2 linked regions of the Homo sapiens genome follow. The protein of the gene in region 1 interacts with the protein of each later gene in a pairwise test. Each region holds a gene or a part of one and is shown on either strand. Other genes may lie near its edges. The genes, in order: EPB41L5 and PALS1.

Evidence for each region.
Region 2: the proteins of EPB41L5 (region 1) and PALS1 interact in binary tests that used the Homo sapiens proteins (3 or more experiments, as listed by UniProt).

The regions. Positions count from the first base shown.
Region 1 is NC_000002.12:120,004,913-120,021,711, forward strand, and holds the start of EPB41L5 (band 4.1-like protein 5), read left to right. Parts: upstream 1-8,164; 5' UTR 8,165-8,298; exon of another isoform or gene 8,299-8,769; intron 8,770-14,017; exon of another isoform or gene 14,018-14,036; intron 14,037-14,164; 5' UTR 14,165-14,172; coding exon 14,173-14,352; exon of another isoform or gene 14,353-14,356; intron 14,357-16,799. UniProt on the Homo sapiens protein: Plays a role in the formation and organization of tight junctions during the establishment of polarity in epithelial cells.
Region 2 is NC_000014.9:67,310,506-67,326,349, forward strand, and holds part of PALS1 (protein PALS1), read left to right. Parts: intron 1-2,021; coding exon 2,022-2,205; intron 2,206-6,326; coding exon 6,327-6,398; intron 6,399-6,902; coding exon 6,903-6,974; intron 6,975-9,724; coding exon 9,725-9,892; intron 9,893-10,551; coding exon 10,552-10,754; intron 10,755-13,196; coding exon 13,197-13,307; intron 13,308-15,844. UniProt on the Homo sapiens protein: Plays a role in tight junction biogenesis and in the establishment of cell polarity in epithelial cells.

The sequences.
Region 1 (16,799 bases):
TTTTTTGAGACAGAGTCTCACTCTGTTGCCCAGGCTGGAGTGCAGAGGTGCGATCTCAGCTCACTGTAACCTCCGCCTCCCAGGTTTGAGTGGTTCTCCTGCCTCAGCCTCCTTAGTAGCTGGGATTACAGGCGCCCACCACCAGGCCTGGCTAATTTTTATGTTTTTAGTAGAGATGAGGTTTCCCCATGTTGGCCAGGCTGGTTTCGAACTCCTGACCTCAGGTGATCCACCCACCTCGGCCTCTCAAAGTGCTGAGATTACAGGCGTGAGCCATCACGCCCAGCTCATTCTTTCAACTTTTATCTCTATTTTATAAATGAGGAAATTGAGCTTCAGAGAGTTTAAGTGCCCTTCTGGAAGTTAAATAGCTAGTATATGGAGTGCAGAGACCAGAATGAAGGTCTGTCTAACTCTGAAGCCAAATTCAATATTCTTTGAGAGAAACTATTTTTAAAGGAACTATACAAATTTATATGTTTGAAAAAGTATTGTCATAACTTTAACCTGTACCTCATATTTCTCAAACACATTTTGGAAAATGGGCATTTAAAGTGTGATGAGAAAATTATTTCTTTAAAGGAAACTTGAGGTTTGAGTTATTTTTAACAAAACTCTAATAATCTCTAAACCCAGATTTTTTGTATCTGAAATTAATGTAACATTAAATAAAATCTTCTTTATGTATAGGAACAGGTTTAGAATAATAAGTTTTAAGATCTTGAAGAGATCTTAGAATCCTCTCTTCTAATTACCTCATTTTATTTTATTTTTTATTTTTGAGACAGTCTCGCTCAGTCACCCAGGCCGGGGTGCCGTGGTGCGATCTTGGCTCACTGCAATCTCTGCTTCTCGGGTTCAAGCGATTCTTGTGCCTCAGCCTCCCAAGTAGCTGGGACTACAGGCACCTGCCACCACGCCCGGCTAATTTTTTTGTATTTTTAGTACAGACGGGGTTTCGCCATGTTGGCCAGGCTGGTCTCGAACTCCTGACTTCAAGTGATCTGCCCGCCTCAACCTCTCAAAGTGCTGGAATTACAGGCGTGAGCCACTGCGCCCGGCCTAATTACCTCATTTTACACATGAGAAAACCGATGCCAGGAAAGATAATGCCTTGTCCAAATGAGTCAGTAGCAGGTGGTCGCCACTGATCTTTCTACCACAAGGTCTCCTAATACCTTCCCTGCCCCTGGTGTCAAGCAGTAGTCACAGGTATGGGAACAGTCACCTAAAGACCAAGTTACTCAATGTGTAGACCACTAATGTCCACTATCAACACACTGCAAGCTTGTTTGTAGGGCAGAATCTCAGGCCCCACCCCAGGCTTAAACCTTTTAATAAGATCCCCAGGTGACTCATATACATATTAACTTCTAGAAGCATTGAGCCTTGGCTCCTACCTTTTTCTTCCCCTGAGTCTCAGTCTCATCATGGTTTCACCAGTAGGCAAAACCAATGGTGAAATAGTTTCACTTCTGCCTCTCTATTACTCAGTATCATGAACTTGCCTGGAGCCATCAAAGCTTTTCTGATTTTTTTTTTCTTCCTAACAGTATAAATAAAGAGTATAGGCTACCGAGTAAGACACTGTTCCAGATAATCCTGAACAAAATGATGCATTAGGTCCTTTGCCCTGAGTAGCCAGAAGTAGGGGGAAAGCCTGGAGGCTTTGGAGAAAGAAATGACTTGTCTCCAACTCATCCTTCCATGTCTCTTCTCTGCATACTTCCAACCCCTGCCTTCCCCCATTCTGTTAGTGTGTCCTTCAATTAGCCAATGTGGCTAATCATTTAGTATGAATTAGTTTAAGGTCTTACTCCTCCCAGGAATATTTGCAAAGAAGGGAAGGGTGGAATTTCAAACATGCGATTCCGGCTCAGAAAAGATTTAGCTGGGTAAAAGGGAGCCACCAAATCACGTGAAAGTAGGCTTGGGCCGTGGCTCCATTTCAGGAGATCCTAGTCTTCCACTTGTAGCACAAAGGTTATCTTTGCTCCTAGGTCTGTAAAATTTGCATTGTCTTATATGTAGTATTGCATGATTTTGAAAACATGTTAGATGATTTACTTTGTGTAAGGCTCATAACTATTCTGTGGGGAAGCTGGCATCATCTTCATTTTACAGGACTTAAACTTGTTTGGGGCCTTTTAGCTTCCAAATCAAACTCCAGGCTCCTTGCAATATGCTAATAAAATTGTCTCTCTTATGGGCGTTTCTTTTTTTTCTTTTTTTTTTTTGAGATGAAGTTTCGCTTTCGTTGCTCAGGCTGGAGTGCAATGGCGCCATCTGGGCTCACCGCAACCTCCGCCTCCTGAGTTCAAGCGATTCTCCTGCCTCTGCCTCCCAAGTAGCTGGGATTACAGGCATGCACCAGCATGCCTGGCTAATTTTTATTTTTAGTAGATACAGGGGTTCTTCATGTTGGTCAGGCTGGTCTTGAACTCCTGACCTCAGGTGATCTGCCTGCCTCGGCCTCTCACAGTGCTGGGATTACAGACGTAAGCCACTGTGCCTGGCCATGGGAGTTTCTTATGACTGGTTTTAGTTTAGTTTAGTTTTGTTTTGTTTTGTTTTGAGACGGAGTGTTGCTCTGTTGCCAGGCTGGAGTGCAGTGGCGCTATCTTGGCTCAGACTCACCACAACCTCCGCCTCCCAGGTTCAAGCGATTCTCCTGCCTCAGCCTCCGGAGTAACTGCGACTACAGGCACGCACCACCGCACACGGCTAATTTTTGTATTTTTAGTAGAGACGGGGTTTCACCATGTTGGCCAGGATAGTCTCGATCTCTTGACCTCGTGATCCGCCCACCTCGGCCTCCCCAAAGTGCTGGAATTACAGACATGAGCCACAATGACCAGCGTGGTTTTGTTTGTTGATTTATTTTATTTGTACACATCTTTTAAATAGATAATGCTCTCCTAGATTCAGTGTTTGAGAAACAAATTCTTCATGATACTCACTCTTCTGAGGGTATTTTCTTTTCATGGCCCAATCTTGTTTCACCGGTACATTCGCTGCTTCCTCCCTACCATATCATCATGGCCATCACTGTTCTTTTGGAATGCAGGGCCACTTCAGTCTCCAAGAGAACTGATTCTTATGTCGGAATTCTCTCTAAGCCAATCTGTTCAGCATACTTTGACACGAATGAATGGCCTCACCAGGGTGGACCAGTTCAGAGAAGGCTGACTAAGGAAGCAAAGAGCCTGGAAATCAGAACAAGAGAAGATTTTGCAGGCTTGGGACAAGTGTCTTCAATGATTTAAAGGGTTGTGATGTGAAAGAGAGATTATGTTATTTCTTAGGGGTAGAGGTAGATTTACTGTGAAGATAAATCTGGTTTAAGCTTTAGGGCTATTGTGTGGCCTCCTTCCAAGACGCTGTACCTAATTTTGAATCTTTAAATTTGTGTTATTCCAACTAAAGACCTCTTCCCCCACCATCAAATTACAGTATATGAGTTACACAAAAACTGGATATACCCCTATCTGTGTGGAACCAGAGAGCAAACCAGGACCTAGGATAGAAGTGAAAATCTCACGTGAGGGTATTTGTTCAATATATTAGTTCAGTAAAAGAAAATCTTTCCATGGGCCAAGACAATGCCACCAGGAAGTGGGTTTTGGTAGGCACCTTCTTTTTTTTTTTTTTTGAGAGGAGTCTCACTCTGTTGCCAGGCTGGAGTGCAGTGGCGCGATCTCGGCTCACTGCACCTCCACCTCTGGTGTTCAATCGATTCTCCTACCTCAGCCTACCAAGTAGCTGGGATTACAGGCGCCCACTACCACGCCCAGCTAATTTTTGTATTTTTTTAGTAGAGACGGGGTTTCACCATGTTGGCCAGGCTGGTCTCAATCTCCTGACCTCGTGATCCACCCACCTCGGCCTCCCAAAGTGCTGGGATTACAGGCGTGAGCCGCCGTGCCAGGCTGGTAGGCACCTTCTATAGCTACCCACAGTTATTTGTCTCAGCAACATTCTCTCTTTGAGGCTAATAGAATTTGGATTTGTTCAGAAAGTTAAGGAGAGCCCTTGGTCTCCAGCTCCCAAGGGTGAATCCTGACTGGTCTAAGCCAGTCATGGTATTCTCTTTCCCTATGGCCTTTAATTGGTCTGAGTTAGGGCAGGTAGTGTAGTTCTGGCCGGAGACAGGGGGTGCTGGTACTTTCTTCTCTGAATTAAAAGACAAGGCTTCAGGTAAAGGTCTTTTTCCCCTTCCCTTTTATTCCTGAAACTCAAGAAAGCTGGAGATAAGCATCCGTCCTGTGGCCAGTATGCTAGAAGCATGAAAACCAAGGTCAACATGCTAAGGGTGGCAAAGCAGAAATGGTAAAGGGGTTTAGGATCCTTACAGCATTGTTGAGGAGCAGAACCAGTACTAATAGCTGCCTACCTCTAGATTACTTATGTGAGAAAAATAAACTCCTTATTTTTCAAATAACAGTTAAAATTTCCCATTACTTCCAGCCAAATGCATTTTTCCTTGATACAGCTATATTTAAGGAGAGGGCTTTCTCTGTCTCTGGCAGAAGTCAATTTTCTGGTGAATTTATCACGAAACGTGTGTTACAGAGGGTCCCTATGTCTAGAAGAGAGGATCTGGGGAGACAATGATTTGTTATTAGGAATAATTTCACATAATTAGAACATGAACAACTTTCTATGACTTGGGCCCTTAAGTTTCATCCTCCTTTCCTCAAGTCTTCATATTTCCTTTAGCCTATAACCATCTTTCTCAACAGATTTCTCTAACCTCATCCACAGCCTCCTTCAGTTCCACCTTTTTTTTTTCTGGAGATGGAGTCTTGGTCTGTCACTCAGCCTGGAGTGCAGTGGCGCCATCTCAGCTCATTGCAACCTCCGCCTCCTGGGTTCAAGTGATTCTCCTGCTTCAGCCTCCCGAGTAGCTGGGACTACAGGCACACACTGGCACGCCTGGCTAATTTTTGTATTTTTAGAAGAGATAGGGTTTCACCTTATTGGTCAGGCTGGTCTCGAACTCCCGACCTCAGGTGATCTACCCGCCTCGGCCTCCCAAAGTGCTGGGATTACAGGCATGAGCCACCGTGCCCAGCCCCAGTTCCATCTTTGATAGGAGATAGAAAAAAAGATTGAGCAGGATGGATGAAGAGGACACTGTTTTTCAAAACTGGTATGCTTTTCAACAATTTAGGAGAATAAGATATGTTTATAAGTATTGACAGAATTCACTTCCATTTCTGATCTGTAATCAGATAAACCAGAACTTTTCAAATGAGTAAACATCAGGTAAACATGGAAAGAGACAGTCTGGACAGGCTGAGGGGATGGCACTGAAGACCCTGCAGTTTTCCAACTGGCTAATCAGACCCCTGGGAAGAAGGAATGCTTTTCGGGGTACCTGGCCCAGGTGGGTTTGTTTGTTGTTTTTTGTTTTGTTTTGTTTTTAGACAGAGTTTCACTCGCATTGCCCAGGCTGGAGTGCAGTGCAGAGAAAGCAGCTCACTGAAACCTCCGCCTCCTGAATTCACGCGATTCTCCTGCCTCAGCCTCCTGAGTAGCTGGGACGGTTTTCACCATGTTGCTCAGGCCAATCTCGAATTCCTGAGCTAGAACTCTTGAGCCTTGGCCTTCCAAAATGCTGGGATTACAGGTGTCCAGGTGGTATTTTTTTAAATACTCTTTTTTTTTTTTTCAGACAGAGTCTCTGTCGTCCAGGCTGGAGTGCAATGGTGCAATCTCAGCTCACTGCAACCTCCACCTCCTGAGTTCAAAAGATTCTCCTGCCTCAGCCTCCCTAGTAGCTGGGATTACAAGCATGTGCCATCACACCCAGTTAATTTTTGTATTTTTAGTAGAGACGGGGTTTTACCATGTTGGTCAGGCTGGTCTCGAACTCCTGACCTCAAGTGATCCTCCTGCCTCGGCCTCCCAAAGTGCTGGGATTACAGGCATGAGCCACCACATTCGGTCTAAAGGACTTTATTATGAAAAATTTTAGATAGAATAGTTTAACGTCCCCATCACCCAGCCTCAGTTTATGGCCCATTCTTGTTTCATCTATACCATTGCTGCTTCCCCCTGCCATATCATTTCGTTTTTTTGTTGAGATAAAGATGCAAGATGACCAGCAACAATTCCTCCCATCCCTGAACACCCATGCTGCTCCTCTCATGAAGAGTGATGAAAATATTCCACAATTAGATTGTGGTTTGTGGTTCTACAACTCTGTGAAAATACCCAAAGCCATGGAAGTGTACACTTTAAGTGGGTGCATTATATCTCAATAAAGATGTTTTTAAAAGGTGGAGAAGGAAAATTTCTCTATTTTAATAATATTTAAAGAAAAAAAAAGAGGTAGAGTCTCTTTCATCTCCTTGAAACTGGGCGGCCTCTGTGATTTGCTTAAACCATTAACAGGCAGCAGAAGGGACGCTCCGTGACTGCTGGGCATAGCCCTTCATAGGCCTCAGAGCTTCTGTTTTCACTGTTTTGCCACACCAGCGGATCTGCAAGAGAGTAGCCCAGGCAGAACTCAGCTGTTCTTTGCAGCCACCCCAGCGGAGATGCCACACAGACCAGTGAAACCACCTTGGCAGCTCCAGCACCTGTTGAGCTGCCCAGCCAACACCACATGGGGCAGAGATGAGCTGCCAAGCCTGTCTACTACGTTTTGGGGTGGTGGAGGAGTGGGCAGTGCCAAATCCCGAGAAGAAGCTCAATGAGTATTTGTCTCTTTTCATTTCAGCAAGCAGAGGGTCCTCAAGGTAACACCTTCCAGTGGCTCCCCCACCTCTCTCAGAGCTCTAGCCAGGGCCCACAAGGCCCTACATCTTACCCCTTTCCTCTCTGACTGTCACCTCCTCTTCCTCTTGCTTCCTCACTTCTAGCCACACTGGACTTCCTTGAAAAGACAGACCTGTCCCCTTGCAGGGCCTTTTGCCCTTGCTGTTCCCTTCGGTTCTCCCCAGATGGCCACAGGGTTCCTCCCACACCTCCTCTAGGTCTTCATTCAAATGCTACCTTTTTTTTTTTTTTTGAGACTGAGTCTGGCTTTGTCGCCAGGCTGGAGTGCAGTGGCGTGATCTGGGCTCACTGCAACTTCCGCCTCCCGGGTTCGAGCGATTCCCCTGCCTCAGCCTCCTGAGTAGCTGGGACTACAGTCGGACGCCACCAGGCTCAGCTAATTTTTGTATTTTTAGTGGAGACGGAGTTTCACAGTGTTGGCCAGGCTGGTCTCGATCTCCTGACCTCGTGATCCGCCCGCCTCGGCCTCCCAAAGTGTTGGGATTACAGGAGTGAGCCACCGCGCCCAGCCAAATGCCACCTTCTTATTGTGACCTGCTATGTAAAATCGCAAACCCTCACTGCCTGTGGTTATTCCCTACTTGTACTTTTCTTTTTAGCATTTACCAATGTCTGACAGTATTTAATTTCACTAATTTATCTCGTTTATTTTATGTCTCGTTTATATTCCTGCTATAACGTAAACTCCGGGAAGGATTTTTGTCTGTCTTGGTTGTCTGTCGTATCTCGTGTCTAGAACACAGAACTCACAGTAAGTAGGCACTTCAATCAATTACCTGTAGAATGAACGGACTGAATGTCACCTTGTTAGAGTACCCTCCTGACCACACTCTGCTAAGCAGTAATCTTTTATTTCTCTTTCCCAGTTTTATTTTTCCTCATTTACACTTAATCACCTTGTGACACCTATTTGTTTACTGTTTCCCCAGTAGAGTGAAAGTCACTTTAACAGCAGAGATTTAAATGTATTTTAATCCCTACAAAGGAGAAAAAGGGAGGAAATACGTGACAGGCTCTCAATAAGTATTTGCGAAGGATTTAATCTCTTGAACGAATGGATGAATGAATCTAGCAGCCAGCTCCACCAGCCTCCTTCGTGATAGGACTAACTGGGGTCTGTCTGCGGACGGGCGCCTCCTCCGCGGGCGGAGGGCCGCAGCGGGAACTGGGTTTCGGCAGCGCCCCTTTAAACCAGCCGCGGACGCCCGGCTGCTGGCGCTAGTTCCAGCCCGGCCGGGCCCGGCCTCGCCGGTTTCTCTCCAGTCGCCGCGCCGGCCAATTTCCGGGGCGGTGTCATCGCCCGTTTAAGAGCGGAGCGCTCCGCCCTGGGGGCGGAGCTGGGAGGGAGCTTTAAGGGGTGGACGGGCGGGAGGTCGGGGTCCTCCGGGGATTAGAGCCGGTGGGCTCGTTGTGGGCGCCATTTCTCGGCGTCTACCGAGGAGCCGCCCCTTTCTCAGCCTTGCTCGGCTCTTCCCCGCTCTGGTCGCCGGGGCTGCGCCGTCCCCAGCTCAGGTAAGCGCGAGGCCCGGCGGCGGCGCCGCAGTACAGTCCGCTGCGCTCCTAGCCGAGTGGACCCTTCCTCGCCCGCGCCTGCGGTAGCGGCCTTGTCCCCGGGGAGGCGGGCGGGGGCCGCACCCAGACCCTAGGGCGGCCGGCCCCTCTCTCGTCGGGCCGGCAGGGCATTAATCCCGCCGGAGGGAGGGGCGGCGGCGGCCAATGAGGCAGGGCCGCCGAGTTTCGGTCGATACCGCGCGACGGGCCGGGGCGGAGGGCCCGGGGCAGCCGGGTTAATGTTTGCCGAGCGGACGCGCTCCCCGAGCCGCGGGTACCCCTCGCTGGTCCGCTGGGCTGCCGTCCAGCGGGAGAGACAAAAGTCGCAAGGGAAGGGGAAAAACGAACTGAGTTTGTGTCACTGTCTTGGTGGACTTTTCGAGCTAACCTGTATTTGAGAAAAACTTCAGTCTCTTGGGAAAGGAGAGGCAGGTGTGTTCCCATGAAAGACGAGGTCTGAAGGTCCCGCCCCGCCCCCACCCGGGACGGTTGTCGTGCTAATGATGGGTTCTTTGGTGTGTAAATGTTAATTGTGTCTGTGGTTACTCGAATTCTACCTAAGAGCGAGACCCAACTCTTAAAACGTTTGGCAATATTTTAGACTAATATTAAAAGTTTTTAAAGAATTACGGGGAAAATTCCCATAACCGTGTACATTTGTAATGTAACCCACAACTGCATTAACTCAGTTTCTAACATAACCCGTTGCTGAGCTCTAGTTAACCTTGTTGGATTATTTGTGCATGTAATATGCTGTGCAGGCTTTAGAAAATAGGTTAACATTATTCGAAAACGATATGCGTAACTGCTGTTGAATTACTCGCTTGCATTTTCTTTATTGGGAATACTGGGACAAAATATAGTGTTACCTTAAATGGCATTTGCTGTATGTTATATTGCTTTATCAAAAAGCAATTAACCAACCATATTGTGGCCACCAGTCATGTAAGAGTATACATATTTCATGACTAACTTTTGGGTTTTGGGTACTTTTTTTAACCAACTTCTGATAGGATTGCTTAAATTTGCATTTTATGATTCTAAAGGAAATCCTTCTAGTTAGGAACTAGAGTAGAAACTACTGTTTTTTGGAAGCCACATAAACCTACCATCCAAAAATTCCACTGTGTCATTCTAGTGTGTCAGGCGAGATGCGGGTTAAGCCAGCTGTTGGGCCAAAGTAGTGAACAAGCCAGACGAAGTCTTTGTCCTTGTGTGTGAGTGGGGGAAGTAGTCAGTAAAAAAGATAATAATTAACAGATATTTAATTACAATTTCTTTGTTATAAAGAAAAGGCTAAGAGTACTGAAAGAGATGTCGAATTTAGACTCACAAGTCTGAGATTGCTTTTCTGAGAATAAGACATTTCAACTATAAGTCTGAAGTTAGTCCAGTGAAATGGGAGCGGGTGGAAGAGAGGTCAACTGGAAAAAGAGCAATCCAGAAAGGTGGAACAGCTAATGAAAAATGGTCCAGAATTAAAAAGACTCTCCGGCCGAGCAGCAAGAGTACAAGAGCAGAGCAAACAGAGGGGAGTAGGCTGACAGATGGGTCAGGCAAGTAGGAGGAGCTGCATCTAGGACCAGGGCCATTAAAGATTTTAGAACAGGGATCAGATTTGTGGTTGCCAAAAATCCAGTGGCTGCAACATGAAGAGCGCAATTGGAAGAGTGCAGGTGGGAGGGGAAAAGTGAGTATGAGAAAACTTTTTTCACAATCATTAAAAAAAAAAAAAACCCACAACTTTTAGTGATCCATTCATATTATTTTTTTTTTCCATTAAAAAAAATTAGGCCAGGCGCAGTGGCTCACGCCTGTAATCCCAGCACTTTGGGAGGCCGAGGCGGGCGGATCACGAGGTCAGGAGATGGAGACTATCCTGGCTAACACGGTGAAACCCCGCCTCTACTAAAAAAAATAACAAAAAATTAGCCGGTCGTAGCGGCGGGCACCTGTAGTCCCAGCTACTTGGGAGGCTGAGGCAGAAGAATGGCGTAAACCCGGGAGGCAGATCTTGCAGTGAGCCCAGATCGCGCCACTGCACTTCAGCCTGGGCAACAGAGCGAGACTCAAAAAAAAAAAAAAAATTAGGTGGGGTCTTGCTGTGTTGCCCAGGCAGGTCTTGAACTCCTGGCTTCCAACAGTTCCGCCTTAGCCTCCCAAAGTGCTGGGATTACAGACATGAGCCACTGTACCCAGCCATATATTCTTGTTGTGACTTCTGACATGCCCCTCTTCAGAGAGAATCTCAACAGTTTACGTGTGTGTCTGTTTAGCGTGTCTGTGTGTGTGCATGTATCCCATCTCCGTGTAGGATGAAACTCTCTTCAGTGTTCTGTGATTTGATTTTTCACTTAGAAATTTTGTCATATCTAAGTCAACTATTTATTTAAAACAACTGTATTATGGCTGGGCTTGGTGCCTCATGCGTGTAATCCCAGCACTTTGGGAGGCTGAGGTGGGAGGAATCCGATTCCCTGAGGCCAGGAGTTTGAGACAAACCTGGCTAAGTAGCAAGACCCTGTCTCTACAAAAAATCATTGAAAAAACGTTAGCCCGGTGGGATGGTATGTGCCCGTAGCCCTAGGTGGGAGAATCCCTTGAGCATGGTAGATGAAGGCCGCAGTGAGCCCTGGGTGCTAGAGTGAGACTGTCTCTAAAAAAAAAAAAAAAAAAACATAAAAATAAAACAACTGTATTGTATGCTGTTGTGTGTACCATAACTTGTTTAACTGTTTGCACATTGATGAACACATTTAAAATTTTCTTAAATCAGTTATGCTCCGAAAAATCCTGTTCCTACAACTTAAAGCACATGTGTGATTTTTTTTCTTTAGGTTATCCTTCCAGAAATAGAACTGTTGAGTAAGGAATATGCATGTTAAAATTTCTAGTATTGGTCCGGCGAGGTGGCTTACGCCTGTAATCCTAGCACTTTGGGAGGCCGAGGCGGGCGGATCACCTGAGGTCAGAAGTTTGAGACCAGCCTGGCCAACATGGTGAAACCCAGTATCTACTAAAAGCACAAAAATTAGCTGGGCGTGGTGGCTGGTACCTGTAATCCCTGCTACTCAGGAGGCCAAGGCAAGAGAATCTCTTGAACCCGGCAGGTGGAGGTTGCAGTGAGCCGAGATCGCGCCATTGCACTGCAACCTGGGGGACTAGGTTGAGACTGTCTCAAAAAAAAAAAGAATTAAAAAAATATTAATAGCATGGTCAAGTCTCCCTCCAAAAAAGGCCAACGTAGGAGGATTATTTTTTCTCACATTCTTTTTTACACTATCTTGAGTCTTTAAATGACAGACAATATCTTATTTTTTTTCATTTGGATTTTCTTGGATACTGTTAAAGGTGTTCGTTTTTATGAACATCTTTTAAATTATCTTTTAGGACTTTTTCGTATCTTGCTCTTTGTTCTTTTTTTGATGTAGAGTCTCAGTCTCACTCAGGTTGGAGTGCACTGGTGGGATATCATAAAATGTTTCTTGGGAGATATTGGTGGAGTTAAAAGGAATATGTAGGGATTCTGTGACACAGGATTTTAGAAATCTGGGATAACAAGTACAGTCTTAGGCAGCTGAAATGAGACTGGATAGCAAGTTCCAAAGGGAGAAATACCTGGAAAAAAAAATCTGGAGAAAGAGACTGGGACCAGGTATTATATATGAGTGTTTGGAACACTGGAAAGTTATCTAACTAAAATTTTAGTTATTTCCTTGGGATTAGTTTACCTAATTACGCAAGAGTATACATGTGTAAAATGTGTAGGCTAATCTTCAGTGTATAGACATTTTAATATGGTACTATCTTAAAAATCGGATTTTATCGGGTTTATAAATAAATCTAGTTGAAAAAGTCATTTTATCTGAAGGCTTCTCTTGAAAAACAGCATTCTCCTGAATTCTTTTGCTCCCTCTCCTGAGGCAATCATTTTCACATTTTAAATCAAATGCTCTTACTGCTAATTGTTGATTTTTAAATTCTAGTAATGACCTGTTGGCTTGCTGTTACGCATCATGAGGAATTAGCTCTTTCCATATCTGTATCCCCTACCTCTTATTATGTACCTCCTGTCTGTTGTGGTTATTGTTCGATCAGTATTTAGTATTTGACATTGAAATCATTAGCAGCTGAGTCATGTAGTGTATTGTGATTTACTTTTCCTTTTCTGCACAGCTTCTTGTTTTCTTTGGAATTAATAGTCTTTTTGGCTTATTTGTTGGCTTATGTGTACTTAAACTCTCTTTGTTGTGCAAATGAAACACATGAGGATAGCAAAGTGACTTTGATTTTGTGTTTCCATTTAGTGTGCTATGTTTTAAAACCTGTTTTAACTGTTTTGATTAACATTAATGTTCTTTATAGAGTTAAGGAAAAAAGCATTAAAGTACTTTGACATTAAAAAGATTTATGTTAAGTAGTTATTTAAAATCTGTATGTAATAGAATATTTGACAAAACTTAGGAAATTTGAATTATATCTGTATTTTAGCTGAAATAGGTGATTGTTTTTGTGTTTTTATTATGAATGCTCAGAAAAGAAATGGAACTTCTCAGGATTTTTTTTGAGACAGAATCTCCCTCTGCCACCCGGGCTGGAGTGCAGTGAGGCATCTCAGCTCACTGCAAGCTCCGCCTCCCGGGTTCACGCCATTCTCCTGCCTCAGCCTCCCCAGTAGCCGGGACTACAGGCACCCGCCACCACACCCGGCCAATTTTTTTTTTTTTTTTGAGACGGAGTCTTGCTCTGTCGCCCAGGCTGGAGTACCGTGGCGCCATCTCGGCTCACTGCAAGCTCCACCTCCCGGGTTCATGCCATTCTCCTGCCTCAGCCTCCCGGTAGCTGGGACTACAGGCGCCTGCTACCACGCCCGGCTAATTTTTTTTTGTATTTTTTTTTAGTAGAGACGGGGTTTCACCATGTTAGCCAGGATGGTCTCGATCTCCTGACCTCGTGATCCACCTGCCTTGGCCTCCCAAAGTGCTAGAATTACAGCCGTGAGCCACCGCGCCCGGCCACTTCTCAGAATTTTTATGATCATCAAAGGATACCTTAGTGTCTGACATCATCTTGGGATATACAAGATGTTGTACATATAATTTATCTATTTAGAAGACCTGATGAACTTCATGAATGTTTGCCTTCTCCTGCCAAATCAGTTCCTGATAAAATGGTCCGGTAAATTTAGAAAGCTCCAAACTGTGGCTGTGTCTTATACATACAAGTCTTTTAAAACTTTGAATTAAAGTAACCAGCTTTTTAAATTAATTAATTTACTTTTTAATTGACAAAAATTGTGTATATTTATCATTTATAATATGTCTTGAAATATTTATGAAAAGCCAGTTTTAATGATTTTTTTTTTCAAATTTACTTGACCAGGAGCCCTTTTTGTTTTTTATTTACTTATTTTTTGAGACAGGGTCTTGCTCTGTTGCCTGAGCTGGAATGCAGTGGCGCAATCCCAGCTCACTGCCGCTTTGACTGCCTGGGGTCAAGTGATCCTTCTGCCTCACAGCCCCTCAAGTAGCTGGGACCACAGGCATGCACCACCACACCTGGCTAATTTTATTTTTAGTAGTGATTAGTTCTCACTATGTTGCCCAGGCTGGTCTTGAACTCCTGGGCTCTAGCAGTCCTTCTGCCTAGGCCTCCCGAAGTGTTGAGATTGCAGGCGTGAGTCACTGCACCCAGCCCAGGTGTCCTTTTTAGTAGCATTTCTACTAATGTTCACAGGACTTGACTAAATAATGCCATTTGACTGACTGCAAGTTGTGGAGAATCTCATTTTTTTCCTGATGCCATCTTTTTCTCTCTGTTTTTATAGTGACAAAAATGCTGAGTTTCTTCCGTAGAACACTAGGGCGTCGGTCTATGCGTAAACATGCAGAGAAGGAACGACTCCGAGAAGCACAACGCGCCGCCACACATATTCCTGCAGCTGGAGATTCTAAGTCCATCATCACGTGTCGGGTGTCCCTTCTGGATGGTACTGATGTTAGTGTGGACTTGCCAGTAAGTAGGTCTTGCTGAGCTCCAAATTCTGTTTGCGATTACTGTCTTTGTTTGTTTGTTTAAAAGCTTTGTATTGGTAACTTCTGGATGGAAATAAGTAAAGGTATTATGGGTTAGTATAGATCAGGCACTGTAACATTCAGGTACATGGATCAGATAACCGTAGACCAAAAGTACTTGGATTGGTGGTATTTCTCTTTGGAATTAGTGGCGATTACCTGAAACATTTAAATGACAGGGCAGTTATTGGCATGAGTCTGTTTCATGTGTCTTTCTATGTGTTCTTTGTGATGGCAGCACATGATGTAGTCTAGTGGATTTCTGACAATCCTTGTTGAACCATTATTAAAACGTTGTGAATCTTTGAGAATAACAACACTTAAATGTGTACTGTAAGACTTTTAGCTTCTATGCACTTCTGTATTTTTTAAAACTCTCCTTACTTTCTTCTAAATAAATATTTCCCCACAATTTGGTTTACTTGCAGACATTAATGAGGTGAAGTGAGAAAAAGGACTTTCTTCATACCCCTCAGCTCTGACTGCCTGTCTCTTTGCTCCTGAAGTATTTTGCATTGTAGGTTTTTCATACACTGTAGTCTTTATCTCAAGACAGGCTGTTGTAATTATATTTGCATTTTGGATAGATTTTTTTTTTTTCAGAAATATATAATCATAACTCAGTGTGAAACAATCTGACATGTTTGAAAGGGGTTAGCTTATTTTTTTACAGGACTTTTTGGGTGGAGGAGGGGAAGAAAAGGTTGGCTTTTTGGTTTTGGGCAGTTGAATATTTTTCTGAGTTGCTTGCTAATACCAAATCTCTTTCTCATGTCTTTGTTCTGCATTCAAAGACTTAACGGTAAATTACATCATTTGATGTGAGCTTCATAGGATATTCCTTAATGTCTTTTCTCCCCACAGACTTTTTAGTACACACTCATCTACCCAAAATTCAATTTAAAAAGTCTCTTTGGGCAAAGTGATAGCCTACGTGCTGCTGTAATACATAATTGAATAAGCTCGGGAAGACCTTAAACTCACCAAGTGAGAGTATAAGGAATTGGAGAGTTTGTTTAAATGGATGTTCTGATTAACTTAATAATTTGGAATGTATTAGATATGTACATTATACATTTTAAAATATTAGAATATGATAAAATTAATCAAAGACTCAGGATTTCTTGAAGTGTTTTGAAGTCATCATTACGTGTATTTGTTATCTTTGTCTATAAGAATGTATATTTTTAGGGTTTTTGATTCTGGACAACTTGAAAGCATCTAAATTTTCTTCCTGTAAGTGCTTCTTGAGGGTTTATCAGACATTCCAACATGAGATATTTTGTGAGGATAGTTTTCATACTCATTTCTTATTTGATAGGAATCTTAAGAGTTTTGTTTACTATTTCATTAAAATATCATTGGATATGTGGTGAAAAGCCTGAGATTGCTGTGTAAGAGACTGGAAAGAAATTTCTTATTACCTAATGTTTGAAGTATGAAGTTTCAGGGTTGTTGATGGACAAGCTGATAGTAGGAGAGTAGAATTTGTAAAAAAAAAAAAAAGAGGTTTTTAAAAACGCAGTGCAGTATGGAGGAGAAACAACACTAGCTTTTAAAGTGGTGGAACAAATGGCTAGTTACTGATCTGGAATGGTTTCCTAAACTTTGTATGCTTAGCTGGGTGTATGTGATGCTTGATCAAATTTATAAACTAGCTGGTCTCTCATGGGGACAATTGTAGTGAAACAGCTGGAGATATAGATTGGACTTTTTGTGAAACAAGAACAGTTGTCAGCCAGGTGCAGTGGCTTATGCCTGTAATCCCAGCACTTTGGGAGGCTGAGGCAGACAGAACCCTTAGGCCAGGAGTTCGAGACCAGCCTGGCCAACATGGTGAAACCCATCTGTACTAAAAATACAAAAATTAACCGGGCGTGGTGGCATGCGCCTGTAGTCCCAGCTACTCAGGAGGCTGAGGCAGGAGAATCACTTGAACCTGGGAGGTGGAGATTGCAGTGAGCTGAGATCGCGCCACTGCACTCCAGTCTGGGTGACAGCAAGACTCCGTCTCAAAAAAAAAGAAAAAGGAACAATTGGGCCAGGTGCAGTGGCTCACGCCGGTAATCGCAGCACTTTGGGAGGCCGAGGTGGGCGGATCACAAGGTCAGGAGTTTGAGACCAGTCTGGCCAACATAGTGAAACCCCGTCTCTACTAAAAATACAAAATAGCTGGGTGTGGTGGCGGACGCCTGTAATCCCAGCTACTTGGGAGGCTGAGGCAGGAGAATCGCTTGAACCCAGGAGGCAGAGGTTGCAGCGAGCTGAATTCGCACCACTGCACTCCAGCCCGGGTGACAGTGCGAGACTCCATCTCAAAAAAAAGGAACAACTGTCTTTCCAATTCTGTAGGTGAAATCGTACTTATTAACCTAACTCTAGGTACGT
Region 2 (15,844 bases), on another chromosome or scaffold:
TGATATGATGGTTGTTGATTTGGATGCTAGTTATACAGGTCTGTTTAGTTAGTGAAAATTCACTATGCTATACACTTATGATAATGTGTATTTTTTGTGTATCAAAAGTTACTCCCAAAAGGCATAATAACATTTAAGTTTTGCTGGTAGCTGTTTAACTTTTATATCTTTGTATTTTTAACCAGATCATTTTTTAACCTTAGTTTCAGTTTGTATATTAGGACTCAGCTTTATTTCCTATTTATAGAAGTTAATAAAATATTCTTTGAAATTAAAAAATATTCTTTAATGACAAGCCAAAAATTTTTTAAAAAGCCATTTATCTGTCTATCTATCTATCTATGTCTATCTTTGTCACTTAGCATTTTTTCCAATTTCATATAGTCTGTCATCGACAGTACTCATTTTAGTCAGTGTCTCAAGTGCTTAAAGAGCGCTTAAAAAGTGCCCCTTTTGGGGTAGACTGGTATTACTTTTATTACATATAACCTCAATTATGGTGAGAGTAAAACACTTAAAGCTAAGGCCAGGCGTGGTGGCTCGTGTCTGTAATCCCAGCACTTTGGGAGGCCAAGGCAGGTGGATCACCTGAGGTCAGGAGTTCAAGACCAGTGTGGCCAACTGGCGAAATCCTGTTTCTACTAAACATACAAAAATTAGCTGGGCGTTGTGGTGAGTGCCTGTAATCCCAGCTACTCGGGAGGCTCAGACAGGAGAATCACTTGAACCCGGGAGATGGAGTTTGCAGTGAGCCAAGATTGTGCCACTGAACTCCAGCCTGGGCAACAGAGCGAGACTCCGTCTCAAAAAAAAAAAAAAAAAAAAGCCAAAGCCAAATAATATTTGGATAGAAATGGACCTTGAATTCTTAGACTGTTTGTCTTTTGCTTGGTTCGTTGAGCCTGAACTTGGAATTTAACCTATGTGTGACAGAAATGCTCACTGCAAATATGTGGGCAGAAATGCTCATTACAAATTTGTGTGAGATCTCATTAGATGAAGTAGATTTCTTATAGATTTTGGAAGTGTCACATGCAACTTGCCCAGGTTAGGTAAAAATTAGACATGGGGAAATTAAAGAGAATTTTAATTCCTTTATAACTTCTTAGAAGTAAGAATAGTCTGTCATATCTTACAGAGGCATATTGGAAGAAATGGCATACAGAATAGCTTATAAAGTTCATGAGAGTTACTACCTGCCCTTAATGCTAAGTAGAATAGCACAATTCTTTGATTTATTCTGATTTCCAAAAACACATTATTAGCAAAAATTATAACTTGTACCGTTAATAATATGTCAAAGCCTACATAGCATACAAATAAGAATTGATTATAAACTTGATTTAGTTAATTTTAGTCGTTGATAGTGTGCTTGTTTCATGAACATATCCTTTAAAAGAAACGCCAAGAGAGTTTAAGGCATAGTTGGACTGACAGTGGGGTCAAGAGACAATGACAGCCCCAGGGAAGCTCATATTTACCTGCTTAGATGAAGAGATGTGGTAAGGTAAAGTGTACCTTTTCTAGTAGCTGTGGTTTGGAAATTGCATACCTTATTGCAGAGTCATTGTTTTCACAGGTCAGGATTCTATTCTATTTCTGCTTCTCTCAAGCTTTTGAGGCACCTTGTACCTCAGCTTGTAGCTGCGAACAGTGTTGTGGATATCCTTGTACATATCTGCAAGTCAACAGAGAAGATAACAGATCAGCCTGAAAAAATATTGCCCAAAAACACTGTTACTTAACACCCTTCTTCCAACTACAATTTCTTTGCACTGATGAAAAATTGTGGCCAAGTGCAGTGGCTCACACCTATAATCCCACCACTTTGGGAGGCTGAGGGAGAAGGATCGCTTGAGGCTAGAAATTTGAGATTATCCTGGACAACATACTGAGATGCTGTCTCTATTAAATTTTTTTAAAATTAAAAAATAATAAAAAATTTGTAGCATTTAAATTGTATTCATATGAAACATTTTATATTGCCATTTATTGTTGTTTTTGCCCTTTTTATCTTTTAGATCCATGTAAAAGCTCATTTTGACTATGACCCCTCAGATGACCCTTATGTTCCATGTCGAGAGTTAGGTCTGTCTTTTCAAAAAGGTGATATACTTCATGTGATCAGTCAAGAAGATCCAAACTGGTGGCAGGCCTACAGGGAAGGGGACGAAGATAATCAACCTCTAGCCGGGCTTGTTCCAGGTAAGACACAATATGGTAGAAAGTACATAATATTAAAAGAACATTGAAAATGCAAGCCTTCACAAAGAAAAACTCACTCTTTCATGCCTCTATTTAATAAAGTATTCCAGTTACTTTTTCGTGTAGTTGGGTTTTTATGTTGTACCTGCAGCGTAAGTATATTAAATAGAATGTGGCCAATTCTTTGGCCTTTAGAATGGAATTATGTATAACTTCAGCCAATCCCATATTGTAGTACATTTCCTGTATACATATTAAGATGACCGTATTATCGAGGCAATACAACTTGTATTATACTATATACTATATACTATGACATTAATTGGAGCATCAACATGATTTTTGAGAAGGAAAGATGCATAACTTTATAAGGAGTCAGGAAAAGTAACATCATAGAATTTATTGTACCAAACGTGATCTTAGGGCAGAAACAGGATGCTCCAAATTTTTTATTGATGAAACTATCCCTAACTTAGACTAAACTAAAACTTTAGCTTACATTATAGATTAAGATTATTAAGGGGACATGTTTCTGAGAGTTAAGATGATACAAAATAGAACAAAGTACAGTCATGCATCACTTAACGACAGGGATAAGTTCTGAGAAATGTGCCATTAGGTGATTTCATTGTTGTGCAAACATCACTGAGTGTATTTACACAAACCTAGATGATATAGCCTGCTGTACAGCTAGGCTATGTGGTATAGCCTATTCCTCCAACCACCATCATATATATGGTTGGTTGTTGACTGAAATGTTGTTATGCAGTGCATGACTGTATGTAGATATAATTATTTTCTACAAATGGCTCTTACAGTTCCCAGGATGGCAGTAGAATAAAGAAAGGAGAGCAGAACTAAGGGAAGTTTAATAAGCTATCGGAGAAGGCAAAGGAATACATACAGGATGATAAAAATAGGGATATAGAGTAAAGGGATAATAATTCATCCATTTATTTGTTAATAAATGCTGTTATGTCTGCACCATGTAAAGCACTTTGCCTGGTGCTGAGATAAACTTCGCTTACATACTTTACTTGAAAGCATATCCATTAACACTTATGTATATTTTTTTCTTCTGTGTCCCCTACTTTATAATATTTTCATGATATTGTCTCTGTTATAATTCTTTCTACTGTATATGCTCAGTTTATAAACTTCTTGATGTCAGAGGCCAAGTCTTATTTGTTTTAAATCCAGATAATATATGTTAAATTAATGAATAAAAGATGATTTTAAAAGTTCTCAGAAAACAAACAAAAATTAAAAAAAAAAAAAATAGTTCTGCCAGAACTGCTGTTTCTGAATTAGACCTTTCAATGCTTTGCTGTAATGTTTTTCTGGCCTTATCTTTTATCTACAACCTTTTTTAGCGATCATCCCTCCTACTCACACCAGAAGATTTTAAGCATAACAGATTTGGCTATAGACTTAGCCTTACACTGGATTTGACAACAAGCAATAGTTTAGGGGAAAAGAAGAAAAGGAGGGCATGAAAAAAAAGACTGAGAAATATTGACTATGAGATACATAGTAGGAACAGAGGAAGTTGTCCAAAGATTTTAGAATAAGTTATAAGGAATCTCTTTTATCTCTGTAACTAAGCCAAAGAGACTTTTCTGGGTACAAGAGATTTCAACATAATATTTACATTTATTCTTTTTGAGTATAAGGTCACAGAAAGCTTCAAATTTCTCACTTTAAAACTCAGAGGCTAGAAACAGATTTTGTCTATATCAGTCATATTTTAAGGAAGGAGGAATGGACTTCTTACATTTATTTTAGAGTATGATGCTAAAACCCGTGATTCTTCAGAGTAACAGTTACAGGACATTTCTCTAGAATCTTGGAGTGTTGGGTAGCCATTGTGGTTCTGCCTCAGGCTTGTGCCAAATATCAGTATGGTGTCTTCCTACCATGCCGAACTTTAGCCCATAAATGTTTAGAACTAGTGTTTGTTGATAGATTGATTTTCTGAAAGTATATAGATTCCAATGATGACATTTCTAAGTCTTTTTATAAGACTAAAGATCTGCCTTAGAGTTTGACGATGGCTTTCCATCAGAATTAGACAGATTTTTTTAAGAGGTCATTATGAGGCTGGCCCTGGTGGCTCACACCTGTAATCCCAGCACTTTGGGAGGCTGAGGTGGGAGGATTGCTTGAGCCCAGGAGTTTGAGACTAGCCTGGGCCACATAGTGGCATAGCTGACATAATGAGACTTTGTCTCTACAAAAAATTTAAAAATTAGCTGGGCATGGTGGTGCGTACCTGTAGTCCCAGCTATTCAGGAGGCTGAGGTGGAAGGATTGCATGAGGCTGGAAGGTTGAGGCTGCAGTGAGCTTTGATCACACCAGTGTAACAGAGCAGTCTCAGAAAAAGAAAGAAAATCATTTCCATCTCTCATTAATTTCTGCCTCTATTTCAGAATAGCCTATAGTTCATACTACAAAAAGTGCCACAGAAGTACATCATTGTAATGTTTTACATTTTTAATATGTAAATGATTAAAATTACTTTGTTCTTGATTTTTAAAAATCGGTTACTTATTTTTAATTTTTTTTTTTTTTTTTTTTTTTTTTGAGACAAAATCTCGCTCTGTCTCCCAGGCTGGAGTGCAGTGGCATGATCTCAGCTCACTGCAAGCTCCGCCTCCCGGGCTCATGCCCTTCTTCTCTCTCAGTCTGCTGAGCAGCTGGGACTACAGGTGCCCACCACCACGCCCAGCTGATGTTTTGTATTTTTAGTAGAGATGGGGTTTCACCGTGTTAGCCAGGATGGTCTTGATCTCCTGACCTCGTGATCTGCCCACCTTGGCCTCTCAAAGTGTTGGGATTACAGGCATAAGCCACTGCACCCGACCCCTTTAAATTTTAATACTCTTAAAATTTTCCTTCTAGTAATAGTTACTTGTACTAAGAATACAGTCTTGGCCGTGCACAGTGGCTCATGCCCCTAATCCTGGCACTTTGGGAGGCCAAGCAGGAGGATCACCTGAGATTAGGAGTTTAAGACCAGCCTGGCCAACATGGTGAAACCGAGCCTCTACTAAAAATACAACCATTAGCTGGGCATGGTGGCGGGCCCCTGTAATCCCAGCTGCTCGGGAGGCTGAGGCATGCGAATCCCTTGAACCTGGAAGGCGGAGGTTGCGGTGAGCCAAGATTGCGCCACTGCACTCCAGCCTGGGTGACAGAGCGAGACTTCGTCTCAAAAGATAACCAGGCTTCCTTTAATGCTTCTTATGTGTATGGAAGTCAGTATTAATCTTTTTGTTAGTACACTTACGAAATGCACTAAGTTCTACAGATTATCCCCACCTATGTAGAATTTGCTTATTGATTTTTAAGAATCTCTGGCTTTACACTGAAAAAAAGTAGATTTAAAAATAAAATAAAAAAGTGGAACCTCAACGTAATTCAGAATCTTCTAAGTGAAGCCACTTGTATCCTATAGGAAAAGACATATTTGATTTAAAGTAGAAGTCGGAAAAGAAAACCTCTTTCAAGGTCAGGAACCTTGAAAGCCTCCTATATTAAAATATTAATTTTGTAAGGAAAAGCACGTTTTCCATTTATATAATTGGTAACTTAAGGGTGGAAATAAAAAATGGCTAACACATATACATACACAAAAGAAGAGGAATTGAGAATAATGCATGCAAGGGAATATACTGAATGGTTTCTTGGAATTGAATATGGAATTGAATATGTGATGAATGCGCACATGTTGTTTTGGAAAAGTTAATTCCTAGAATTGATATCCTTAATTTGAGATAATTCTAAAGGACCTAGAACCATTGTAAGATCCAGGATAGTACTTTTCCACAAAGTAAATGCTCAATGAAACCTTTTAAAAAGTTGAACTATTAAATTTTTAAATATTTTAGTAGATGATATGTATTCTAATAATACATATGGGATTGATTGAGCAGAGTTAATATTTTAAAAATTTGGAGGCTTACACATCATAGCTGACATTACTCCTGTGTTGGCAAAAGGATTTGGAAGGGAATATAAGTGAAGAGATATGTCTAGTGTTTTCCCTTCTTGATTAAAAAAAAAATTCTTATCCTTTTATCTTAAATATTTTACCCTTCTTTTTCTTTCTGCTATTAAGGGAAAAGCTTTCAGCAGCAAAGGGAAGCCATGAAACAAACCATAGAAGAAGATAAGGAGCCAGAAAAATCAGGTTAGACACTTGTATTTGACATAAGTAAATGGTTTCTTGGGTCTTCATCTGGAGCCATGTGTGAATCTGCATATTAGAACCGTGAAGAAGTACTCAGGGAAAGAGTGATACAAGAGGCAAAACTGATTATCTCAGAACTGTAAAGAAAGGATAAGATTTAAGTATTAAAGATTATCTGTCTATACTGTGTAGTTAATTGAAAATTGTAAATGCTTTCCTGAAAAATAGTCTTTATACAAACAGTGTAATAAGTATTTATAAAAGTAAATTAAAAACAAGCTGGGTGTGGTGGTTTGCACCTGTAATCCCAGCACTTTGGGAGACTGAGGCGGGAGGATCACTTGAGGCCAGGAGTTCAAGACAAGCGTGGCCAACATATGGAGATCTCGTTTCTGCAAAAAAATTTAAAGAATAAATGAATGAATAAATAGAGTTCTTCAATTTGAGTTATGTGGTTTTGTTCACGGGAACACATTTATAGTTATGTTTATGATTGCTCAACAGGAAAACTGTGGTGTGCAAAGAAGAATAAAAAGAAGAGGAAAAAGGTTTTATATAATGCCAATAAAAATGATGGTAAGTTCTACTCTCAGGGATAGGTGGAATTATATCTGAAAGGAGTCTAAACCTAGTCCTGTTTTGCACCTTAATGTTAAATATGTGCTTGAGAAAATCATTTAGTAGAAAGTATTTTCTTTTGGAATCCTGTGAGTAAGGCAGTGTTTTGAATTCTGGGGAAAACTGATACAAAAATTCAAGTACTATTTAGCATATGTAGTATTAAATTGACAGTTTCCTGTAGTTTTTTTCTACTTAAACTCTTTGCAAAAATTATACTTCTAACAAATTCTTACAGAACATACTTGAAGTAAAAACTATGTCCTCTACAATAGCTCATGTCACAGAAGCAACTCATTCCTGAGAACCCACTACCTGCTGGCTAAGTCAGACACACAAGAGAATTTTAGTTTTATTTTGATTGATTGCTAAGATTAAAAAGCTCGAAAGTTGTAGCTTCTCTTAAAATCAAAAGCTCTGATAATGTTGGGCTAGTATTCCTAGGTGACAACAGTCTGCTGGACCTGAGTGATGACTGTTGCTCTTATATCAAGCACCTGGTGTCTAGTTTAACAGTCTCTACCACTCCCAGTGTTTTATTAACCCAACCTGATTTACTGATTTTATTACCTCCTTAGTTTGTTTTTATGGGCATTTGAGTTTGCTACTTCTGTTTGGTTCACATTAGAAGCAACCCAAATAATAAAGCAAAGGCTTTCCTTCTTATGTAATTTATAAGGCTTTTCTGTCAAGAATTTGAAATATTTGGGAGCAGCACACATTAAACTAATAAAGATAAAACATTATAGATCATTATAATATTCCATAAAAGCTAAATGAGGTTTGATCAACTTTAATAAATTTTTTTCTAAAATAAATATCCTTTAATGCTAATTGACAGATTATGTAACTAAAAAGATTTAATGAGTTTTAAATTTTATCCTCTATATTTGTGATTAATATCTCTTTTATTTTTTGAAACAGACTGAAGTTAACTAGTCCAGCTCTAAGAGCTACTGTACTGTAGAAAACGTGGCAAATCTGAACCTTATGGATATACACACTGAGTCTATAAATTAAAATGCTACCAGTCTTGATTATACGTGTTAGAATAAACTCAGATTTTTCAGAGAAAATCATTTTGAGAGGAGAAGGAATTACATTTGCTGTTTATGATGATGTCATCATCATGAATATTTTTAAATAAATAACTACAATTCATAATAACTGCTGTATTCCAGGGCAGTAACTATATGATGTTGTTCTCACAAACTCCTTGAGGTTACAGAGTAATAGATTCAAGTTTAGATATTAGGCCGGGCGCGGTGGGTCATGCCTGTAATCCCAGCACTTTGGGAGGCCGAGGCAGGCGGATCACGAGGTCAGGAGATGGAGACCATCCTGGCTAACATGGTGAAACTCCATCTCTACTAAAAAATACAAAAAATTAGCCAGGCGTGATGGCGGGTGCCTGTAGTCCCAGCTATTCGGGAGGCTGAGGCAGGAGAATGGCGTGAACCCGGGAGGCGGAGCTTGCAGTGAGCCGAGATCGCGCCACTGCACTCCAGCCTGGGCGACAGAGCGAGACTCCGTCTCAAAAAAAAAAAAAAAGTTTAGATATTAAAGTGATTTGCTGAAATTCTTAACAACTAATACATGATTGGTTGAGCTGGAATTTAAACAAGTGTAGTTTGAGCTCCTGCTCTGTGCCAGGCTCTGTGCTGAGCATTGACAAGCCTAAGATGGTCCCCTAACCTCATGGAAATAGAGCTGAGGGAGTCTGACTTCACATCTGATGCTCCTTCACAGTCAGGAGAAGTAATATGAGTGAGGACTTGGCAGGCTACTAGTTATCTGCTTTTGTTCTTACCACTTGACAGCTCTGGTTTCATCTGGATTATGGGCTTTAGGAATGTTACCCCACCTGTCATAATTTATACCTCATTTTGATTCATGACTCTGGGTTAGCATTCCAGAGTAGAGTAAACATAAATGCAGAAAGTGGAGATAGCATGCATATGGCCTGTTTTCAAGTTATACAACTACAGCAGGGGTATCCAATCTTGTGGTTTCCCTGGGCCACATTAGAAGAAGAATAGTCTGGGGCCACACGTAAAATACACTTAACACTAGAGATAGCTGATGAGCTAAAAAAAAAAAAAAAAAAATTGCAAAACAATCTCACAGTGTTTTAAGAAAGTTTACAAATTCGCATTGGGCCCCATTCAAAGCCGTCCTGGGCTGCATGCAGCTCATGGGCCACGGGTTGGACGAGCTTGAACTATAGGAAAGTATTCCAGCTTTCTCTGATAACACTGGTTGTAGCCACTATATGTAAATGTCGGTCTATGCTAGCCATTGTATTCAGCGTATACATTATGTCTGATTCTTAAAACAACCTTCTTAAGTAGAATATTAATATCTGCATTCTTCAAAAATGACGGATATTACTCTTACTAGTTCATTCCCTGGTACCGCATCCTTATTCAAAGTATTGACTGCAAATTAGCTGTTTAATGTAAGAATCAGTATAATTATATTGTATTAGACATTCAAGCATGAATTTTTTATTTCAAATATGAAATGAGATAAAAATTAATAGAAGGAGTATTATATTGTTGTCTGATTCATTTTCATGATACCCTAGCAAGGATGTAATGACAATAAATTGTGCTTTTGTCTAATTTTGGGTGAAGATCTATGAGTATTTATATCTTTAATACATGGCCATAATTTTGTTTGAAGAGCTTAACTTTTTTTTCCCAAAGATTATGACAACGAGGAGATCTTAACCTATGAGGAAATGTCACTTTATCATCAGCCAGCAAATAGGAAGAGACCTATCATCTTGATTGGTCCACAGAACTGTGGCCAGAATGAATTGCGTCAGAGGCTCATGAACAAAGAAAAGGACCGCTTTGCATCTGCAGTTCCTCGTAAGTTTGAATGCATTCCCATTTTCCTGTGCTTTTCAATTTACCAGCTCAGAACCTAACTATATCATGTAGGGAAATTTTTTATTCATTTCATTAAAACACTGTTGTCAGTGAAAGAGGAACTTTAACCAAAGATTTTGACAATTTTTAAATTAAAAATAGTCATTATTAAGAAATTTAAATTTGTCCTTCAAGTATGTACTGATTATTTTCTAAACAAATTTCAGTTTGGGCCCCTTATAATTTCCTGTTCCATAGAGAATCAGTTCCTGCTGCTTTAAAGTGATACAGAAGATAGAAACTTAGGCATAATCTGAAACAGAAGTTATAAGATTATATGGTACCTAATCTTATGGAGATAAACTTTAGGAGAAGATGAGTAGTAGTGTTTTAAATGCAGGATGAAGTAACTTGAAGTGTAAGCATAAAATGTATTGAGATAAATATAACTATTACTAAGATACTACAAACTCATTTTTGTTCATTTTTCAATCTACAAAAAATAAAAACAATGTTAAACATGTAGGCACTTAGCATTTTCTCAGTTTATTATTTTATAATCTGTGTTACAAAATAGAAATTCTTTCTGACTAGCAGAATTATCCCCTGTCCTCACTCTAAGCCATGCCTGTTATTTCTATCTGATTTTGTTTGCCTAGATACAACCCGGAGTAGGCGAGACCAAGAAGTAGCCGGTAGAGATTACCACTTTGTTTCGCGGCAAGCATTCGAGGCAGACATAGCAGCTGGAAAGTTCATTGAGCATGGTGAATTTGAGAAGAATTTGTATGGAACTAGCATAGATTCTGTACGGCAAGTGATCAACTCTGGCAAAATATGTCTTTTAAGTCTTCGTACACAGGTAAAGCTAGAACTTTGTTTTAGGGTTTGAACTTAGAAGGAATGTCATATAGAGTAATCTAGTGGAAGCTATATTTTGGTCCAAGAACAGCGCGACCTAATTAAGTTCTCATACGGTTTTTCCCACTGATTTGCTATCTGAAATCACACAGGTTGCTAAATCTCTTTCAGTTTCCTCAGAGGGAAAACATATACATACTTACATATACAGGTTGACTATCTCTTATTCAAAATGCTTGAGACCAGAGTGTTTTGAATTTCAGAATTTCTCAGATTTTAGAATATTTGCATATATATAATGAGCTATCTTGAGGATAGACCCAAGTCTGAAATTAAATTCATTTATCTTTTATATACACCTTATTTACTTAGCCTGAAGGTAATTTTATTTTTCCTGGGGATATTGAATAAACTGTCTGCTCCTGTATTTTGACTATGACCCGTCACATGAGGCCAGGGTAACGTTTTCCACTTGTGCTGTCATGTCACTGCTCAGAAAGTTTCAGATTTTGCATTTCAGATTTTTGGATTAGAGATGTTCTGCTTGTATATATGCTTGTATGTATGTTCTGAAACTTAAAATACAGTAAATATAGTATTGGTAGTACTTTAATTTGAGTCTATGAAATAATTTCCCTTTTCTGATTCCGATATGAGAAAAATTAGAAAATTTCAAGATTATTTTTATGGTTTAAATGCCATTGTTCAAATATTAACAAGTATCACAGTGAATGCTTGGTTGTATGAAAATAATGAGACCTCAGTTTCACTTATTTGGCAGACTAAGCAAAAGTGTAAAATTACTAACTAGTGCCTCTTAGCTTTCTATTTAAAATGATAATTTTAGGACGCCAATGTGGGTGGATCACTTGAGTTCAGGAGTTCCAGACCAGCCTGGGCAACACGGCAAAGCCCCATCTCTACCAAAAATTAAAAAAAATTAGCCAGGTGTGGTGGCATGCACCTGTGGTCCCAGCTGCTTGGGAGGCTGGGGTGGGAAAATCGCCTGAGCCAGGGAGGCGGAGATTGCAGTGAGCTGCACTGCACTCCAACCTGGGTGACAGAGTGAGCAGAGTGAGACTCTGTCTGAAAAACAAAAACAAAAAAACCTAATTTTAGAAACTTGGAGTTTTTAAGAAACTCCAAATGTTACGGAAAATTGTTTAATTTTTGTAGACCATACAGCTTTAGCATACGACTTTCCTTAATGTGGTAGAATCTGCTGCTCATGTCAAATTAGGCAACATAGTCAGTGGTCATTAAAGAGATGTACATAAAGGAGAATTGACTCTAAAATGGCTATTCTAAAATAGTAATTAGGGATTTTTGTTTGTGTTTTAGTGGACAAATGCACTTAGGCTCTACTATTTCAATTATAAATTTTTGATTTAAGAGAAGTATACATGTTTTTACTAAATTTCTTTAGAGTTCTTTATATTATTTGGGCAAACAGGTTTTTAAAATTCTTATTTCTCCAGAAAAAAGGGCTAACAGATTTTAACAAAGAACTCAGCATATTGTTTTAATCATCTTAATGTTTTTAGATAGCAATGGCATATTCCTATAATCTCCATTTTGATAGAGCGTGTCAGTTTGAGCACACACAGTCATGCATTGGTAATCAAGTGAAAACTGCAATCTCCAGATTCAAACATAGTCTACTTTTTCTTGGATGTGCTTTTCTTGAATTGTCTTGCACATGTGAAGTTATGTTCTATGATTTTGCTTATATTTAGTGTCTGGCACATAGTAAGGCAACTTGTATGATTCTAATTGCTCCAAAATTGATTTTTAATATGGTTATTGTAATCTGTATGTGATCTTATTATTAAAACTAGGTGTTTTAATATCACATAGTTGTCATCCTTCAGTATCATTCACTTACATTTCATTACATAAAAGAGCAAGCTAAAATTATATGTATATAATATGTATTATATGTGTATATATATACATATATACACATATATACACGTGTGTGTGTGTGTGTGTGTGTGTGTGTGTATATATATATATGGCTTCACAGTATATTCTTACAGTGAATGGTAGGATCTTAAAAATATTGTGAATTGGGCCAGGTGCAGTGGCTCATGCCTGTAATCCCAGCACTTTGGGAGAGACCAAGGCAGGAGCATTGCTTGAGGCCAGGAGTTCAAGACCAGCCTGGACAACAAAGCGAGATCCTGTCTCTACAAAAAAGTAAAAAGTTAGCTGAACATGGTGGTGCATGCCTATAGTCCTAGCTACTGGGGATGCTGAGATGAGGGGCCACTTGAGTGCAGCAGATTGAGGTTGCAGAGAGCTGTGATCACACCACTGCACTCTAGCCTAGGCAACAGAGCAAGTCCCTTAATCTAATATATATATATATATATATATCAGTATTATTAGGAAGTAATTAAATGATGCAAATTATTTTAAAAATCAAAATGTCTCTTTACAGTCATTGAAGACTCTCCGGAATTCAGATTTGAAACCATATATTATCTTCATTGCACCCCCTTCACAAGAAAGACTTCGGGCATTATTGGCCAAAGAAGGCAAGAATCCAAAGGTAAAGTTTTCACACTATTGTACTATTCCATTGAAGGTAAACATGAAACAGTCCTGGTCTAATTTGTCCTGGTGCTTAAAAGCTACATTAGCTTGAGCTTTCAAACTGATTATTTTTTCTGTAATATTACTTGCCCAAAAATTGCCATGGTTGCCACTGGGTTGGACTATGGCAGCTTTCCAAAGTTGGGGCATCTACATTTGGTAACCTTTGAGCGTCTTCACATGGGTCTGTGACATTTCTAGGGAGATGTGACTGCCACCAAAGTTATCAGCCAACTCTTCAGGATTACTGACTTTTCTCTGTAGATACTCCACATTTTCAGGGAGCCAAATTTGAGTGCTCTTGCTTTTCTCTTCTTTTTATCCCACTGAAACTTTATGTTCTGCTTTTTTTCTCCCTTTGGTCTTCTCACATGGTTTGGAACAGAAAAATTTTTTTAAATTATTTTAGATCTATGCTAGATATGGTTGAGGTAGTCCATGTCATATTAAACATTAATAATTGACTGATAACATGTTATTAATAAGACAGCATTGACTTTTTATTTAAATATGTAAGATGGTAACTCTGTCAGGTGACTTACTGTATCAGAGTAACATGTTCTTCCTTGTTTTTTTTGCTCCATATTTATTAAATAGATCTACTTTTGAGAGGGCTCACTCAGATTGCCTCATTTCATTGACTATGCCTTTAAATCTCCTTAAAGATAGTCATTAAAAGCATATTTACACTCCTTTCTTTTGATTGTTTTTTTTGTTGTTGTTGTTGTTTTGGTCGTTGCTGTTTTGAAATAGGGTCTTACTCTATTGCCCAGGCTGGAGTGTAGTGGCATGTTCATGGCTCACTGCAGGCGCAGACTCTGGGCCCACGTGATCCTCTCACCCCAGCCTGTCCAAGTGGCTGGGACTATAGCCATGCACCACCATGCCTGGCTAATTTTTTATGTATTTTATAGAGACAGGGTCTCGCTATGTTGCCAGGTTGGTATTGAACTCCTGGCCTCAAGAAACCCTCCTTCCTGCCTCAGCCTCCCAAAGTTCTTGGATTGCAGGTGTAAGCTACCACGCCCAGCCTTCCTTTCATTTTTTTTTTTTTTTTTTTTTTTTTGAGACTGAGTCTTGCTCTGTCACCCAGGCTGGAGTGCAGTAGCGCAATCTCGGCTGACTGCAAGCTCCGCCTCCCAGGTTCACGCCATTCTCCTGCCTCAGCCTCCCTAGCAGCTGGGACTACAGGTGCCCACCATCATGCCTGGCTAATTTTTTTGTATTTTTAGTAGAGACAGGATTTCACCATGTTAGCCAGGATGGTCTTGATCTCCTGACCTTGTGATCCACCCGCCTTGGCCTCCCAAAGTGCTGGGATTACAGGCGTGAGCCACCAGGCCCAGCCTCCTTTCATTCTTGACTGTCCACCACAACACATTAACCCTTCCTCTTCCTCTTCACCCTCCAAAATATCTTTTTTCACTCTATGTCTACTTAACATTTCTTAATCTATATGTGAGGTTAAGAAATGATATATATATATCATCCTACATGATGAGCATAATTCTGGTTGCTTTGTCTAGGCTAAGTAGGCTAGCTGGTTAAAGTAGTGCTGCACCCCTTTTTCATTTCCGCCATATACCTACAAATTCTTAAGTAACTGGGGTCAGAGTATTTGTTGTCCATAGCACTTGGGATGATACAAAGGAAATAGGCAGCATGGTCACTGGCTGTTCTTGAGGAGGATCACAATATAACAAGAGAAACGAGATTAATACTGTGTAAAATTTAGTGTCCAATAACTACTTTGGTAGAACAGAAACTCCATGGTTGTTCAAGGAAAAGGATGCGCACTAAGGACCAGAGTGTACTCCATGCTTCCTGTTCAGCCTAATTTTCCACTTCCTAACATGCACACTTATTTCTTTTTAGGCTATCTTTTTTTCCAACAAGGATTTGCTATCATATGAAGGGCCATAGACCATTCCAAAACATGTTAAACATGTTAAGCATCTTTTTTTTTTTTTGAGACAGAGTCTTACTCTGTCGCCCAGGCTGGAATGCAGTGGCGTAATCTTGGCTCACTGCAACCTCCGCCTCCTGGGTTCGAGCTATTCTTCTGCCTCAGCCTCCCGAGTAGCTGGGATTACAGGCACCTGCCACCACACCCGGCTCTTTTCTTTTTTTTTTTTTTTTTTTGTATTTTTAGTAGAGACTGGGTTTCACCGTGTTAGCCAGGATGGTCTCGATCTCGTGACCTCGTGATCCAGCCTCCTCGGCCTCCCAAAGTACTGGGATTACAGGCGTGAGCCACCGTGCCCGGCCAGCATCTTTCTTTTGGTTGGTCTCTGGCCGTGTTCTAATGGAATTTTTATCTACTTCACTTTGAATTGGCCATCCTAAAATTTCAATTTAGGTCTGATTTTTTTTTTTTTTTTTTTTTTTTTTTTTTTTTTTTTTGAGAGGAGATTCTATATGTCACCCAGACTAGAGTGCTGTGGCATGATCATAGCCTTGAACTCCTGGAGTCAAGTGACCCTCCCGTCTCAG